Linked DNA regions of Homo sapiens: region 2 is linked to region 1. The links come from fine-mapping of genetic effects on gene expression. A gene starts in region 1. The other region holds a variant in brackets. All regions are shown on one strand. Distances are between the middles of the regions.

Region 1 (2,910 bases):
GCGTGGGCAACATAATGAGACCCCTATCTCTACAAAACAATTCAAATATTAGCTGGGCCTGGTGGCACACGCCTGTGGTCCCAGCTACATGGGAGGATTCCTTGAGCCCAAGAGATTGAGGCTGCAGTGAGCTATGATAGCACCACTGGACTCCAGCCTGGGAGAAAGAGCAAGACCGTCTATATATATATATAATTTTTAAATTTATTTTTAATTTAATTAATTTATTTATTTTTTGAGACGGAGACAGAGTCTCGCTCTGTCGCCCAGGCTAGAGTGCAATGGTGCAATCTCGGCTCACTGCAACCTCCACCTCCCGGGTTCAAGCAATTCTCCTGCCTCGGCCTACCGAGTAGCTGGCGTTACAGGCACCTGCCATCATGCCTGGGTAATTTTCGTATTTTTGTAGAGATGGGGTTTCACCATGTTGGCCAGGCTGGTCTTGAACTCTAACCTCAGGTGATTCACCCACCTTGACCTCCCAAAGTGCTGAGATTACAGGTGTGAACCACCGCGCCTGGCCAAGACCGTCTATAAAACAACTGAATAACCAGCTGAATAAAAGCTGAATAACCAGCATCCAACACATTATCTGGTACGTAGCTACATTGTGTAAATCACTGGTGAATTCAATAAGCACAAATAACAAAAAAAGAAAAAAAAATGAATTCAATAAGCACGTGTACTTTGAAAATGTATTTTAGGCAGGGCGCGGTGGTGATCCCAGCACTTTGGGAGGCTGAGGCAGGTGGATCACTTATGCTAGGGAGTTTGAGACCAGCCTGGCCAACATGATGAAACCCGGTCTCTACTAAAAATACAAAAATTAGCCGGGCGCAGTGGCTCACGCCTGTAATCCTAGCACTTTGGGAGGCCGAGGCGGGCGGTTCACTTTAGGTCAAGAGTTCGAGACCAGCCTGGCCAACATGGTGAAACCCCGTCTCTACTAAAAATACAAAAATTAGCCGGGCATGGTGGTGCGCGCCTGTGCTCCCAGCTACTCAGGAGGCTGAGGTAGAAGAATCGCTTGAACCCGGGAGGCGGAGGTTACAGTGAGCTGAGATCGCGCCATTGCACTCCAGCCTGGGCGACAAAATCGAGGCTCCGTTTCAAAAAAAAAAAAAATTAGCCGGACAGTGGTGGCGGGTGCCTGTAGTCCCCGCTACTGGGGAGGCTGAGGTAGGAGAATCTCTTGAATCCAGGGGGTGGAGGCTGCAGTGAGCCGAGATCGTGCCACTGCACCCCAGCCTGGGAGACAGAGCGAGACAACGTCTCAAAAAAAAAAAATGCCAAAAGTAATTTCCCCTAGGGAGGCATGGGGTGTTCCTTTCTCGGCACGCAGGCCCCTAAAATCCCTTCGGGCGGGCGGGTGTGGGGAGACCAGGCGGCTGGGAGACCCAGGCGGTGTTAGGGGTTGCGAGCAGCCTCGCTCAACTGGGGAATTGGCGGCAAGACTGCCAGGAGGCGGAACCTAGGGCGCTCGGCGACGCGGTCCTGCGGACTGTCGCTAGTGAGGCACCCGCCGGCCCGGAAGGGGCTGATGCGAACTGGGGCCACGGCAGCCATCGCGCTTTGCAGTTCGGTCTCCTGGTGTACGGCCAACGCCAAGTAGGGGATTGCGTTCCCTCCAGTCGCAGGTGAGTGACAGCCCCTCCTTCTGGGAGGACCGGTGGGCAGCAGCTATGGATCCCCTAGAAGGCGCACTTTTAGGGCCAAGACCTACTCTGAGTCCCTGCCTGTGGCACTGCGTGAAGGGGCGCCTGTTTTTCACCCCGGGGTTAGGCGGCGCGAGGGAGGACAGGTCTCATCCATGCTCCGCGGGGCCGTCTGATAGCCCTCGAGGCAGAACACTGCTGCTGTCAGACGCTTGGTCTTTTCAGGAAAGAACGAGGTGGCTGCAGGCAAGCCCCTTCCTTCCCCTGGGCCTCAGTTTCCTTACCTGGTAAGGTGAAGGTGGCGGGTCTCACTGACAGCTGAAGAGGCTGTGACACGGCCTGGTGTTTTCAGCGCTCCCAATTAGTGTAGAGGCAAATTGAGCTTCCTTACTAGTACTGGTTAACGTTTTCCGTAGCCCAAAGTCCCAGTTAAGTGGAAAAAAGATACACTGTTGAGAAAACTGTACTGATTTTTGTTTTAATTTTTTAAATTTTTGTTGTTGTTTTGAGACAGAGTTTCCCTCTTGTCGCCCAGGCTGGAGTGAAGTGGCACGATCTCGGCTTACTGCAAGCTCCGCCTCCCGGGTTCACGCCATTCTCCTGCCTCAGCCTCCCGAGTAGCTGGGACTACAGGTGCCCGCCACCACGCACCGCTAATTTTTTTGTATTTTTTAGTAGAGATGGGGTTTCACCGTGTTAGCCAGGATGGTCTCTTATCTCCTGACCTCGTGATCCGCCTGCCTCGGCCTCCCAAAGTGCTGGGATTATAGGCGTGAGCCACCGCATCCGGTCTAACTTTTCTATTTTTAGTAGAGATGGGATTTCTCTATGTTGGCCAGTCTGGTCTCCAACTCCTGACCTCAGGTGATCTGCTCGCCTCGGCCTCCCAAAGTGCTGGGATTAAAGGCATGAGCCACCTCAGTGGGCCACTGTACTGATTTTTAAGGTGTTGAAGCTTTTCCAAGAAGATTTGTTTTAAAACAGCTAAAACTTTGACATTGTTAGCTGAAAGAACCAAATTCGTCAGCAATTTAAGGTGTTTGGTACAGTGGACAAAATGAGGTGAAGAAGTCCTTTTAACTTGAAAAATTAAACATAGTATTATTTATTTGTGTGTTCTTACATCAGCCTCTATATTACTAAGTGTCTTTGAAGACGTCCTATATTCCGTGTTAAAGTATCAGTGAAGAGTAGGTCACATTGAAACAATGAAAGAAGGAAAGAAAAGGAACATTTATTGACTACTATGAGTAAG
Region 2 (2,910 bases), 22 kb after region 1:
TTTAGCTTCCGAAGAACTGACCATTGCTGGCATGACGTTTACAACTTTTGATCTGGGTGGACATGTTCAAGGTAAGATTCTTTTTTTTTTTTTTTTTTTTTTTTTTTTTTTTTTTTTTTTAGACAGGCTCACTCTGTCTCCCAGGCTGGAGTGCAGTGGTGCAATCTCAGCTCACTGCAACCTCTGCCTCCTGGGTTCAAGCAATCCTCATGCCTCAGCCTCCCCAATAGCTGGGATTACAGGCATGTGCCACCGCGCCCAGCTGATTTTTGTATTCTTAGTAGAGATGGGATTTCGCCACGTTCAAGGTAAGATTCTCTTACTCTTACAGTCACTTTGTTTTATTTTAACTTAACAAAAATGTGGCCATTAGTTCTAGTGCATGAAATCTCATTCTAGTCACGCAAGGCCAGAGTAGATTTAAAATTTAGGGATTATTACTCCCCGATAAATACTTTAAAAGCAAAGGGTGATTTTCATGATACTTCTGGCCAATTCAAATGAGAATTGCTTTTGGTGGTAAAGTGTATGAGTAAAATTAACTTCCATTCTCTCTACTTCAATCTACCTCTCACTGTCATAATCATGTTTTGAACATGTTACTGCTCTGTAAAACAAAAACAAAACAAAACAAAACAAAAAAACCTTCAGTGGCTAACTCATTACTTACAAAATAAAGGCCAAACTCATTAACCTGGCATTCAGGATCTCTATGATCTGGTCCCAGTTTACTTTTCTGGGCTTTTAAAAATTATCTTATAGAGACAGGGTCTCACTCACTATGTTGCCCAGGCTTGTCTCCAACTCCTGGGCTCAAGCAATCCTCTCATCTCAGTCTCCCAAAAGTTGGGATTATAGGTGTGAGCCACCACATCTGGCCTACTTTTCTTTTATTTCCCTCTATTCCCCTTCCCGTTCTTTTTGCTTCAACCAAATCAGACCTTCTTGGTGTTTTCCTCTGTGCTTTTGTTCATGCCATCCCCATCCGCACATGAGTAACCCCTTTAGGCCCCAGCGTATGCCCTGCTACCTCCCTTGGGAAGCCATTCTCAGTTGGAGTGCTCTCAGCTATACTTCATAGCACTTAGTATATTTGTGTACATGTCTACAACAAGTTTGGAAAGACTGCCTTATCTCTTATATTAAACTTGCGGGGACTAAAATCCTGTTTTTTGTTTTGTTTTAATTAAAAAAA[A/T]TTTTTTTTGTAGAGATGGGGTCTCACAATCTTGCCCAGGCTGATTTTGAAGTCCTGGCCTCAAGCAATCCTCCTACCTCAATTTCCCAAAGTGCTGGGATTACAGGTGTGAGCCACCACACCTGGCCTGTTCATTTTTTATATCCCCAAAAGTACTTGGCAACATCTACCTCATAGTAAGTCATAACTAACCAATATTACCGAATTGGTGGGCATTCTAAAAACCTGATGCGACATATAGTTGAAAAGATTGTAAATGGTTCTGGCTAGTGAAAGCACATTTGAGACATGTAATTGTCTGGCATATACACAAAATAATTTCTGGAATACGATGATTAGAATTGGAATCTAATGGAATTTGTCTGAGACTTCATTTCTATGTTGTTTCAAGATATGTCATAATGGCTGGGTGTGGGGTCTCAGGCCTATAATCCCAGTGCTTTGAGAGGCTGAGGTTGGGAGGATCACTTGAAGCCAGGAGTTCAAGACCAGCCTTGCAACATAGCAAGACCCTGTCTCTACACAGAATTTAACAATTAATGGGGCATAGTGATAGACACTGATAGTCCTACCTACTCAGGAGGCTGAGATGGGACTATGACTTGAGCTCAAGAGTCTGAGGTTGCAGTGAACTAGCCTGGATGACAGAGCAAGACCCTGTCTCTTTAAAAAAAAAAAAAAAAGGTATGTCATAAAACTCAAGTCAGTGAAGAAAGTTATGTTATGGAAAAAATTACTCTTATGATTTCATAGACTTCAGTTAATTATTAACATTTGAGCTTCTTTTCTGAGTAAAACAATTTTGTTTTGGTTTTTTTTTAATTATTTTTTTTGAAACAGAGTCTGGTTCTGTCTCCCAGGCTGGAGTGCAGTGGCATGATCTTGGCTTACTGCAGCCTCTGCCTCCTGGGCTCCATCCTCCCACCTCAGCCTCCCAAGTAGCTGGGCAGGCACACACCACCACACTTTCTAATTTTTTTTTTTTTTTTTTTTTTTTTTTGAGACGGAGTCTCTCTCTGTCACCCAGGCTGGAGTGCAGTGGCATGATCTCGGCTCACTGCCACCTCCACCTCCCGGGTTCAGGTGATTCTCCAAGCCTGGCTAATTTTTGTATTTTTAGTAGAGACACAGGGTTTCACTATGTTGGCCAGGTTGGTCTCCAACTCCTGACCTCAGGTGATCCACCTGCCTCAGCCTCCCAAAGTGCTGGGATTACAGGCATGAGCCACTGTGTCCGGCTTGGCTAATTTTTTGTGTTTTTTTGTAGAGATGAGGTTTCACTATGTTGTCCAGGCTGGTCTTGAACTCCTGAGCTCAAGCAATCCACCTGCCTTGGCCTTCCAAAGTGCTGGGATTACAAGTGTGAGCCACCACACCCGGCCTTATTATTTTAACAAGCTTGTACCTGATATTAATTTCCTTCTGTCACTCATTCCAAATTTATCACTGGCAAAAAAAATCTGATAACTAGAAATGTCAAAAAATGAACACTGCATATATATGTAATATAAATACACACATTTTATGTATATATAATCACATATATGTAGTTTTTTTACTGCTTATATTTTAGATCTAGTAGCAGTCCTCCAATGAACTTAACGTGTATTTTTTTTTATTTTTATTTTTATTTTAAATATTCTACTCCTTACATATGATAATTGGAAGAGACTAAAGTATTTGACTTGCCCACAGTCAAGGAAAGCCTGAAATTC

The links. PIP is the estimated chance that this variant, and not a neighbour inherited with it, causes the effect.
Region 2: its variant is fine-mapped to the expression of SAR1B in lung (TOPMed, PIP above 0.99). The same link has a PIP of 0.9 or more in nasal epithelium and whole blood.

What each region holds. Positions count from the first base shown.
Region 1 is chr5:134,631,455-134,634,364 of GRCh38, reverse strand. SAR1B (secretion associated Ras related GTPase 1B) reads left to right here and starts at 1,537. Exons shown (of 7, transcript NM_016103.4): 1 at 1,537-1,637. RefSeq lists an enhancer at 1,086-1,642 and silencers at 1,616-1,665, 1,716-1,825.
Region 2 is chr5:134,609,852-134,612,761 of GRCh38, reverse strand. It overlaps SAR1B (secretion associated Ras related GTPase 1B), which reads left to right. Exons shown (of 7, transcript NM_016103.4): 4 at 6-71. Among named protein-coding and RNA genes, the nearest start is that of SAR1B, 22 kb to the left of the region's middle. The variant A/T (reference allele first, on the strand shown) is at 1,196.